Homo sapiens: one gene and its partner. The protein of the gene in region 1 interacts with the protein of each later gene in a pairwise test. Each region holds a gene or a part of one and is shown in the gene's direction. Other genes may lie near its edges.

Evidence for each region.
Region 2: the proteins of WFDC5 (region 1) and COL8A1 interact in binary tests that used the Homo sapiens proteins (3 or more experiments, as listed by UniProt).

The regions. Positions count from the first base shown.
Region 1 is NC_000020.11:45,108,705-45,112,218, reverse strand, and holds the end of WFDC5 (WAP four-disulfide core domain protein 5 precursor), read left to right. Parts: exon of another isoform or gene 1-1,352; coding exon of another isoform or gene 1,353-1,443; coding exon 1,444-1,584; intron 1,585-1,678; coding exon 1,679-1,819; intron 1,820-2,205; coding exon 2,206-2,210; 3' UTR 2,211-2,756; downstream 2,757-3,514.
Region 2 is NC_000003.12:99,788,441-99,795,742, forward strand, and holds part of COL8A1 (collagen alpha-1(VIII) chain precursor), read left to right. Parts: intron 1-2,239; 5' UTR 2,240-2,242; coding exon 2,243-2,570; intron 2,571-5,789; coding exon 5,790-7,302. UniProt on the Homo sapiens protein: Macromolecular component of the subendothelium. Major component of the Descemet's membrane (basement membrane) of corneal endothelial cells. Also a component of the endothelia of blood vessels.

The DNA.
Region 1 (3,514 bases):
CTAAACCTTGGACCTCAGACAGTTTCCCAGGAACCCTCCCATCACCCCCACCACCCCAAACCCACACTTTTTCCCCCTCCCCACGCCAAGCCTCTCTTTCTCCAGCAGGGGGCAGCAATTTAATTTAAACCAACCCGATGTGACAGCTGAAGTTGACTTAGCGCACGTAGGATGTGAGCAAGGTGCCTACTTATGTGTGCAGCCAGCACCCAGGCAGGGGGCTGAGGGGGAGGGGCGGACACAGAGGTAAAGTCACAGAACCAGATCCAGCTGCCCCTCGGAACTCTTGAACATTTTCTCTGATGCTGGATTGAATTGAAGACCTGGGACCTGCTCCATCCCTACAGCTCAAAGACAGCTCAGGGTGGACACTCACAGAGGTCAGAGGGAGCCGGGCCCTGGGAGTCCTAAGCCCAGCCCATGTGGGTCTGGACAAGTCACTGCCCTTTTCAGGCCTTGATTTCCTCCTCTACATGGAGGAGGATACTGATTTCCAGCTTTGTGCATGAAATATGAACATGGCCCAAAATCCCAGCAAGAAGAATGTTAGGTAAGCTCTGGGACAGGACACTCTATACCATTCAGAGGAACGCCTCAGAGACAGAGTTAACGCCTGATCCTCGAAACCATGCCATTTGCAACAGTGATGAACGCAACGGTGCAGAAGACGTGGCCAGCTGTGGCTGTGACAGTGCACCAGGCTGGCCACTGCTGACGCACGTGCAATGCTGGGCCTCACTTCAAAACCCTTTCTTTCCAAGTCACTGAGCCCTACTGCTGTGCGCCAAGGGCTGTGATATGGACCAACGGTGAGCAAAGCTGGCAGGGTGTCTACTCTCCTCACCTCCAGCCAAGTGAGAGACACAGACAAACAGATGCAGCATCACAAACTCTGGAGGAAAGAAATGAGTGTGTGTGTGGGGGCCGGGGTGGGGGGGCGCTGACCTAGTTAATGTGGGGTCAGAGAAGTAGGGTCTTCTGAGGATGCGATGTTTCTGCTGAGTCCTAATGAGCTGACCAGGCGCATGGAGTACAGGAGAAGTGCACTAGGCAAAGGATGCGGCCCGAGCAAGAGCCCTGCAGAGAGAGCTGGCTTGGAGCAGATCAGGAGGCACTGAGTGGGAGGGCAGTAGAGGATGGGGCTAGAGAGATGGGCAGGGCCCAGACCAGGCATGGCCTTATTGGCCACAGTGGAGATGTTGGGCTTCATTTTCCCCTGTCATTTGTGCCATCTGAGTCTCAAACTAGCCCAGCTTCCCATTTCACAGCCAGAAAACTGAGGCTTGGAGTCATTATAAACAAACAAACAAACAAAAATAACAACTAGCCAAAAGACAGGCAAAAAGCAAGGGATGGAGAATTCAGTCTTGTCATTCCCAGGTCAGCGCTTATTACATAACCGTGAGCTTCCTCCAGCTGCAATATTAGGAGATTCTCTTACAGAGAAATCGGGGGGCTGCCCGCCAGATGATGGGCCCTGCCTCCTATCGGTGCCTGACCAGTGCGTGGAAGACAGCCAGTGTCCCTTGACCAGGAAGTGCTGCTACAGAGCTTGCTTCCGCCAGTGTGTCCCCAGGGTCTCTGGTAAATGCCTCCCCTCCACCTTGCTGACCATCCAAGCCCCAAGCTTCAGGGCCAGTGGGCAAGGACGGAGCTCACCCAGTTCCCTGTGTTGCAGTGAAGCTGGGCAGCTGCCCAGAGGACCAACTGCGCTGCCTCAGCCCCATGAACCACCTGTGTCACAAGGACTCAGACTGCTCGGGCAAAAAGCGATGCTGCCACAGCGCCTGCGGGCGGGATTGCCGGGATCCTGCCAGAGGTACGGCTCCTGGGTGCCCAGGGCAGGTGCCTCCCCTCTCCGAGCCCAGCTCTAATACTTTCTTCATTGCTACAAGCTTAACAGGATGCCTCCCCAGAAGTCAGGACCTCCCATGGCCAGGATTAGGAAACTGGATAGGGGTTGGAGGAGTCCTGCTAGGATGACAGAGGACCCGGGAGTCCTTGGTTCTCTTCTTGAGCTTGCTGTGGCACCTGGATGACAGCCCTAAACTGCTCTGGGCTTCTGTTTGCCCTTTTGAAGGGGGCAGAGGAATCCTGCCTTGGTGGCAACCAGAGCTGAGCTGGTGGGGCATGGATGGGAGACCAAGGCCAGAAACCAGAGCCCTATTATGGGAAGGAATTAACCCTTTCTTTCTCCCTCCTCAGGCTAATTCTGATTTAGGATCTGTGGCTCTGCACCTAAGCTGGGGACCAACGGAAAGAGTTCACGATGGGAGGCCTGGGGCCCTGCCCGCTGGACAGCACTATCTCTACCAGCGGTGGTTCCAGCCTTCTGATAATCACTGGCCTGCTGACACTTCCCTGCAACCCATCCACCCCTGGTTTCTCCTCCTGGGAGTCAAAGTCCATAGCCTGAGCTCGGAGGAAGGCCTCTGTATCACCCCAGTACTCTGCACCACTGCCATACGAGCTTCCCACCCTTCCTAACGCTTTCACACCAATCCGTACATGCTGCTTCCTCCACCAAAAATGCCCAATTCAGGCAGACCCTGACCTCTCCCTCAGGCAGCCCAACCATCCAGAATGAATATTCTTGCAGAGTTTTCCAAACATCAGTCATTCACCTCTTTCATGATTTTCACCATACCTACAAAATAGCACCATGATAGGTTGCACGCTGCCTGTACCACCATTTACTTAATGTTTTCTTTAAATGGCTCACTTTTGTATATAAATAAATTCATTTCAAAAGAAAATTGATATCACTACTATAAATGAGATCAATTACCACAAATGGAATTATGAAAACAAATGCAATGGAAACAGCTCAGTTCCATTAAAGTAAATCATGTCAGATTAAATGATATTAAATAGTGTTATTAAACTCTAGCTAGCTACAGCCACCTGCCAAGACTGAGCCTGAAGCCTGTACTCACTCTATGTTTTTGGTTTTTTGTTTTTTGAGACAGAGTCTCATCCTGTTGCCCAGGCTGGAGTGCAGTGGCACGATCTTGGTTCACTGCAACCTCCGTCTCCCGGGTTCAAGCGATTCTTCTGCCTCAGCCTCCCAAGTAGTTGAGACTATAGGTGCCCACCACCATGCCTGGCTAATTTTTGTATTTTTAGTAGAGACAGGTTTTCACCATGTTGGCCAGGCTGGTCTCAAGCTACTGGCCTCAAGTGATCCACCTGCCTCAGCCTCCCAAAGTGCTGGGATTACATATGTGAGCCACCGTGCACGGCCAGTCTATGTTTTAATCAATGAAGATTTTAAAGGGTTACAGATGCAAACATCGGCCGGGCACGGTGGCTCACGCCTGTCATACCAGCACTTTGGGAGGCTGAGGCAGGCGGATCACGAGGTCAGGAGATGGAGACCATCCTGGCTAACACGGTGAAACCCTGTCTCTACTAAAAATACAAAAAATTAACTGGGCGTGATGGCGGGCGCCTGTAGTCCCAGCTACTCGGGAGGCTAAGGCAGGAGAATGTCGTGAACCCAGGAGGTGGAGCT
Region 2 (7,302 bases), on another chromosome or scaffold:
CAAACATGCTAGCTTATTATTAAAGACTTCACCACAAGTCTGGGGTTCCATAATTAAATTCATTCATCCCCAAAAGTAGAATTAAGTACCAGCTTATACATTACCAGATATTACCACACATTTCTGGTATGGATTAACACTTTCAGATCTCTAGTAACTGTCTTACAGACATTGAATGTTAGAGCTAGAAAAGACTTAAGGGAACATCCAAGTCATATTTTAATAAATGAAGAACTTAAAGAAATTTGTTTAGATGCACATAACTAGACAAGGAATAAGTACTGATCTTTGAGTGAAAAAAGCAAAAAATAGAAGTGTGTATAGTATACTGCAATTTATGTTTGAAAGGGATGTATATGATATGTGCATATCCACAGACTATCTGAAAAATATGAGGAAAAATTGTTGCTTCAAACATAAGGGATTTTAGATACTGGAGAACAGAAGTAGGAGGAAAATTTACTTTTTACTAGATATCCTTTGCTACTCAATAACAGTTTACACATCTGTCACCCCCACTAAGAGTACAAACTCCTTGATGGTAAGGCCCACCAGCCATATTATATTCATCTTAGTAATCCAAAATGGGCCTAGCAACTGTTTCTTCATTTTTTCCAGGGAAAAAATGATTTGTTAGTGTATTTAGAAAGATTGTAAAGCTTGAATTTTGTGATAGGGATTCATTTTAAATATTTTATTAGGTGTTTTATTAACCAATCCTTTTGTAGCCTGTATACACTCTTGGCATTACCCTGGAATAGGATATTGCAAAATCAACGCACATTTTCTAAGAAGTAGAAAACTATGATCCAGAATTAAGTAAGGCAAAAGCAAAGAAAACAACTCTCAAGAAGATGGAAATTGAATTATTTACAGACAGAAGTTTCTTCAAAGTTTTCCAGAAGATACTTACATTAAAAATTGTGAGAAATTTGCCACTTCTCTCTCTCTCTCTCCAGCATTATGATGACATGTCCCTTAAGATTCAAATTTTCATTAAGTCCCTTTATACATTGTGAGCATGGAGTTCGTGTATGCCCAGCATTAGAACTACAGAGGGCAGGGAGTGGGCAGGCAGAATATTGAACAGACCTAAGTGTGTATCACACTTGCCCTCTAGTGTGCATTTGCCAACAATGCACTTCTCTGGGCTGTCTGGTTTTAAGCCTAGGGCGTTTCCAAACAGAGGTCTTTTCAAGCTGGTTTTTATAAACAGATAAGCCCCATTTATATTAATTCTGTTTACTGCTAATTTGTAAAGAGTGCTATTAATGGGCTTAGAAGCAGCGTATTCTTATTAATAGTTAAACATCTCCCTCTTATTCATACAACTCTTGCTTTGTAAACTTTCTTTCACAAAAGGACAAAGATAGACTTTAATGGTCCAATTAACCAATTTCTAAACTAATGAATTCATAGTATTTTAATACAAGAAATAAAGGTGCATAATTATGATAGTGATTTTTAAAATATTTCATACTATTACATGAAGAAGCATTTTCTCTTCAACTCAGAAGACTTCTGCAGGCTTTGTTCCTGTTTGCTCTTTACATTTACATTTATTTGTGACTACATCAAAGCAGCCCTCATCTGGCAGATGAAAAATCTCTACTGTAGCATAAAGCCTATAAATTATCAACTGTTTCCATTTAGAATATAATTTTGGCACTTATTAACAAAGCCTAACCAGGACTGAGGTTTATTCTAGCTCGTTTTATCATTCTCTGTGCACTGCATTCGCCTCATGGTCCAAGATGTGTGGTCTGTTTCCAGTAACATATCAGCAATCCAGCCAGAAGGAAGGAGGAAGGGGAAGACATATCCACTCCTTTTTAGGATTCTTCCTGGAAGGTACACCCATGACAACTATACACAATTGGCAAGAATGGCTGAAATGGCCCTGCCTGGCTGAAATGTCTTCATTCTGGGCTGCTCTATTCCCAGGTGAAGACGGGAAAACAGGGCAAGAAAGGCAGAATCGATATGGGGGACAACCAGTAGTCTCTCCCATAGTCTATGTTCCTACCAATTGCCTTTATTTGACAGATTCCACTATTCTCTATTTTTTGTTTGTTTGTTTTCTATAGAAAGTAGCATTTTCCTTTTCATTTGACTTCTATCATGAAGTTCTGATGTTAAAGACTGTTTCCCTTTTTTTTCCCCATTCTATCTCTAAATAAACTCAAGTCACTTGGCCTTGCAGAGTTTCACCAAGTTGGTGCATTGGTTCCTCCCACAGGTGATGGCTGTGCTGCCTGGCCCTCTGCAGCTGCTGGGAGTGCTGCTTACCATTTCCCTGAGTTCCATCAGGCTCATTCAGGCTGGTGCCTACTATGGGATCAAGCCGCTGCCACCTCAAATTCCTCCTCAGATGCCACCACAAATTCCACAATACCAGCCCCTGGGTCAGCAAGTACCTCACATGCCTTTGGCCAAAGATGGCCTTGCCATGGGCAAGGAGATGCCCCACTTGCAGTATGGCAAAGAGTATCCACACCTACCCCAATATATGAAGGAAATTCAACCGGCGCCAAGAATGGGCAAGGAAGCCGTACCCAAGAAAGGCAAAGGTAACATCATACTCCCAGGCTGTTATAAAACAACAGCTTTCCAAATCTCTAAATTATGGGATCAGAGGGGGAAGATAAATTTTAGAAGCTTTAGTTTTAGAATTTGTTACTGGCATTTTTAAAATGCCTACTGTGTTCTAACCATATTCTTGAAAACTTCAAGCCTTAAAGACACAGATAAGACTACCATTTATGTTTTGCTTTATTATTTTAACTAGCATCAGATGAAATAAAATATATTAAATCACAAATAGTCTATCCCCTTATTGTTTATTTATTCAAACATTCAGCAACTATCTATAGTGAGCACCTATTTGTGTCAGGCTCTGGGCCAGATGCTGGGAGCTAAAGCAGTGAAAAAAAAGAAAGGTGACAAGTCAGTCTTCTGAACTAAGAGAGCAATGTTGTAAGGACCTGCTGTGTTAAAAGAAAAGTCACAGGAAAGCATTTTGCGAACTAAGTATTAGACAGGTGCAAGTGTTCTTAATACTACTCTAATTACATATGTCAATCAATAGATCAACAGAAGGAAACTAAGAGTATAGACTGCATCTAGGGATGACACCTGAAAATCTCTCCTGTTGCTTTCTTGGCGTATTTATTTAGCACCAACAAAATGCCCCTCAGTGTGACAGACACTTGACGATAAATTCATTTGGTTTGTCTGGAGTTCTCAGAAACCTAGTACTTGCTGCATCAGAGCAGCAATTACCTTTGAGGAAGTGGAGCCAGTCCCACTAGTCCCTACAATGGCAGGAAGCTCCACCTCTGGAGAACTACTGGATTTGGAACTTAGAGGCCTAGATGCCTGGATGCCAGAAATGAGAGAGACCTAGTCATTTGACCTTTCAGAGCCTATTTTTCTTCATTTGTAAAATAAGATTGTTGAGAGAATCAGTGACATACATAGTAAGTAAAGTGCTGAGTAAATGCTAAAGCACCATAGGAAATTGGAGTTGCTACAACTGCTCATTCAACAAATCCTCAGTAAGAACAGAGTGTGTTCCAGGCTCTGTGCTAGACACCAGGGATTCCTGATTCATCTCTCCTACTCTTCCCCAGATAACTCCTCAATACAGTAACTACACAATTCGCTGGTTAGAAATAGCATGCCTGAATAGTACTATAATCATATCTATTCATGTAAAGAAAGTATTCCTGACTTTCTTCTCTTTAGGAGCTAGTATTATACTTAGAAGATTATCTCAGACATTTCTTTTCCTTCCTTTATTGAATGGCTTGCCTTGCCTTTGGCACTTCTTGTACTTACTCTGATGGATCCTCATATCTCGAAATGAGTTCTCTGTTTGTATTTTATTCTCTGACAGTAGCTCAGCAAAAAGTACAATGGTCAGGATTAAGGTGCTACTAGTGACATAAGTATTATGCCAAGAAGATATTGGGACCATATATTTCATTTCTCCATGTTATCCATTAGTCCCAGCAGCATGGGAGATCCAGAGTTGTGTTCATCTGAAAGGCACAGCATGTTCATTATAACAGCACGTGCTGTGTATTTCAATAACAATTTGAGAAACGGTGACACCTTTCACATCTATTCTCTAATCTTGTAGTGTGGCTGTATTATTCTTATTCTTGCTGTACAGATAGGCAAGCAGAGATGCTGACAGCTTAAGGGACCCAGTCACAATCTCACGCCAAGACCAGAAAGATAAGCAGAGCTTCTTGTTCCTAAGTCAAGCTCTCGACTTCATCCATACTGTTTATCATTCTAAAATATCTTATTCATCTCTCCTACTTAAAAGCCAGATTTGTATATGAGAAATTATTTGTTAAATTAATGAACTAATATTTGAGGCTTAGGAAATCCCACAGCACCTTCAAGAAATTAAGCAAATCTACTAATTCTAAAGGAGAGATGTGGAAAGATGTTATTGAACCACACAAAAAATAACTCTATTCTTTCCTATTTCACATCATACTGTATTTAAGCATAAGAGGAAATATCTTGGCCATAAATTATTATATTTAAAAACTTTGCCAGGCACAGGAAGAAAAATCCTGCATATTCTCTCTTAAATGTGGAATCTAAAACAATCGAACTCATAGAAACCCAGAGGAGAATGGTGGTTACCAGAGGCCTTGGGGTGGGGCAGGAGGGAGAGAATGGAGAGATGATGATGAAAGGTTTAAAGCCTCAGTTAGGCAGGAGAAATAAGTTGTTTTTTGGATATCTATTGCATAGAATAGCGAGTATAGTTAATAATAATGTATTACACACTTCAAAATCACTGAAAGAGTAAATTTCAAATTTCTCACGAGATAAAAATAAGTATTTGAAGTGATAGATATATTTAGCTTGATTTAATTATTCCACATTGTATTCATGAATCATAGTATCACTTTGTACCCCATAAATAAAATACAACTATAATTTGGATAACAACTCCAATATTGTTTAAAATACACACACACACACACACACACAGATAGAACAAATGAGATGAAAATATATATACATGTTAAGTGGTTATCTCTGAGTAGTGGGCTTATAGGCAAATTTGATTTTTCTTTATACATCTTTGAATCTTCCAAATTCACTATAATAAACACACCATAATATCTCCAAGTTTTATACTTGGAAAAATGTTTCTTCTTCATTACTTTTTAGCTTCTTTACTTAACCAATGTTGATACAAGCAGCTTCACATATCAGTTATCAAAAAAATACCTCAAATACATAAAAAAAAATTGTCAGCTTGATTTTTCTTTCTTATTTATTTATTTTTTTCCTTTTGGAGATGGAGTTTCGCTCTTTCACCCAGGCTGGAGTGCAGTGGTGTGATCTCAGCTCACTGCAACCTCTGCCTCCTGGGTTCAAGTGATTCTCCTGCCTCAGCCTCCCAAGTAGCTGGGACTACAGGCATGTGCCACCACACCCGGCTAATTTTTGTATTTTTAGTAGAGACGCGGTTTCACTGTGTTGGCCAAGCTGGTCTCGAACTCCTGACTTCAGGTGATGCATCTGCCTGGGCCTCCCAAAGTTGTAGGATTACAGGCACGAGCCACCATGCCAGGCCTGATTTTTAAGGTCTAGAAGATGAGCATATTATTCCTAGTCTTTTCTCTTGATAAGTATTAGGCAAATGTGTCAGAACTAAATAATGGTTGTCAGTACTTCATTGATGTGAGAGACAATCTACTAATCAATCTCTCTCTCTCCCCCCATACCCCTTCTCTCTCTTCTCTTCCCAGTAGAAATACCATTAGCCAGTTTACGAGGGGAACAAGGTCCCCGTGGAGAGCCTGGCCCAAGAGGACCACCTGGGCCCCCTGGTTTGCCAGGTCATGGGATACCTGGAATTAAAGGAAAACCAGGGCCACAGGGATATCCAGGAGTTGGAAAGCCAGGTATGCCTGGAATGCCAGGGAAGCCAGGAGCCATGGGCATGCCTGGGGCAAAAGGAGAAATTGGACAGAAAGGGGAAATTGGGCCTATGGGGATCCCAGGACCACAAGGACCTCCAGGGCCTCATGGACTTCCTGGCATTGGGAAGCCAGGTGGGCCAGGGTTACCAGGGCAACCAGGACCAAAGGGTGATCGAGGACCCAAAGGACTACCAGGACCTCAAGGCCTTCGGGGTCCTAAAGGAGACAAGGGCTTCGGGATGCCAGGTGCGCCAGGTGTAAAGGGGCCTCCAGGGATGCACGGCCCTCCCGGCCCTGTTGGACTGCCAGGAGTGGGCAAACCAGGAGTGACAGGCTTCCCTGGGCCCCAGGGCCCCCTGGGAAAGCCAGGGGCTCCAGGAGAACCTGGGCCACAAGGCCCTATTGGGGTACCGGGGGTTCAAGGACCTCCTGGGATACCCGGAATTGGAAAGCCAGGCCAGGATGGGATCCCAGGCCAGCCAGGATTTCCAGGTGGCAAAGGGGAGCAAGGACTGCCAGGGCTACCAGGACCCCCAGGCCTTCCAGGGATTGGGAAACCAGGCTTCCCAGGACCCAAAGGTGACCGGGGCATGGGAGGTGTTCCTGGGGCTCTTGGACCAAGAGGGGAGAAAGGACCAATAGGTGCCCCAGGAATAGGGGGTCCTCCAGGAGAGCCAGGCCTGCCTGGAATCCCAGGTCCTATGGGCCCTCCAGGTGCTATTGGTTTTCCTGGACCCAAAGGAGAAGGTGGGATTGTAGGGCCACAGGGGCCACCAGGTCCCAAGGGTGAGCCAGGGCTTCAAGGCTTCCCAGGAAAGCCAGGTTTCCTTGGTGAAGTAGGGCCTCCTGGCATGAGGGGTTTGCCAGGTCCCATAGGGCCCAAGGGGGAAGCTGGGCAAAAAGGTGTACCAGGACTCCCTGGTGTTCCAGGGCTTCTCGGACCTAAGGGAGAGCCAGGAATCCCAGGGGATCAGGGTTTACAGGGCCCCCCAGGTATCCCAGGGATTGGGGGCCCTAGTGGCCCCATTGGACCACCTGGGATTCCAGGCCCCAAAGGGGAGCCGGGCCTCCCAGGGCCCCCTGGGTTCCCTGGTATAGGGAAACCCGGAGTGGCAGGACTTCATGGCCCCCCAGGGAAGCCTGGTGCCCTTGGTCCTCAAGGCCAGCCTGGCCTTCCAGGACCCCCAGGCCCTCCAGGACCTCCAGGACCCCCAGCTGTGATGCCCCCTACACCACCACCCCAGGGAGAGTATCTGCCAGATATGGGGCTGGGAATTGATGGCGTGAAACCCCCCCATGCCTACGGGGCTAAGAAAGGCAAGAATGGAGGGCCAGCCTATGA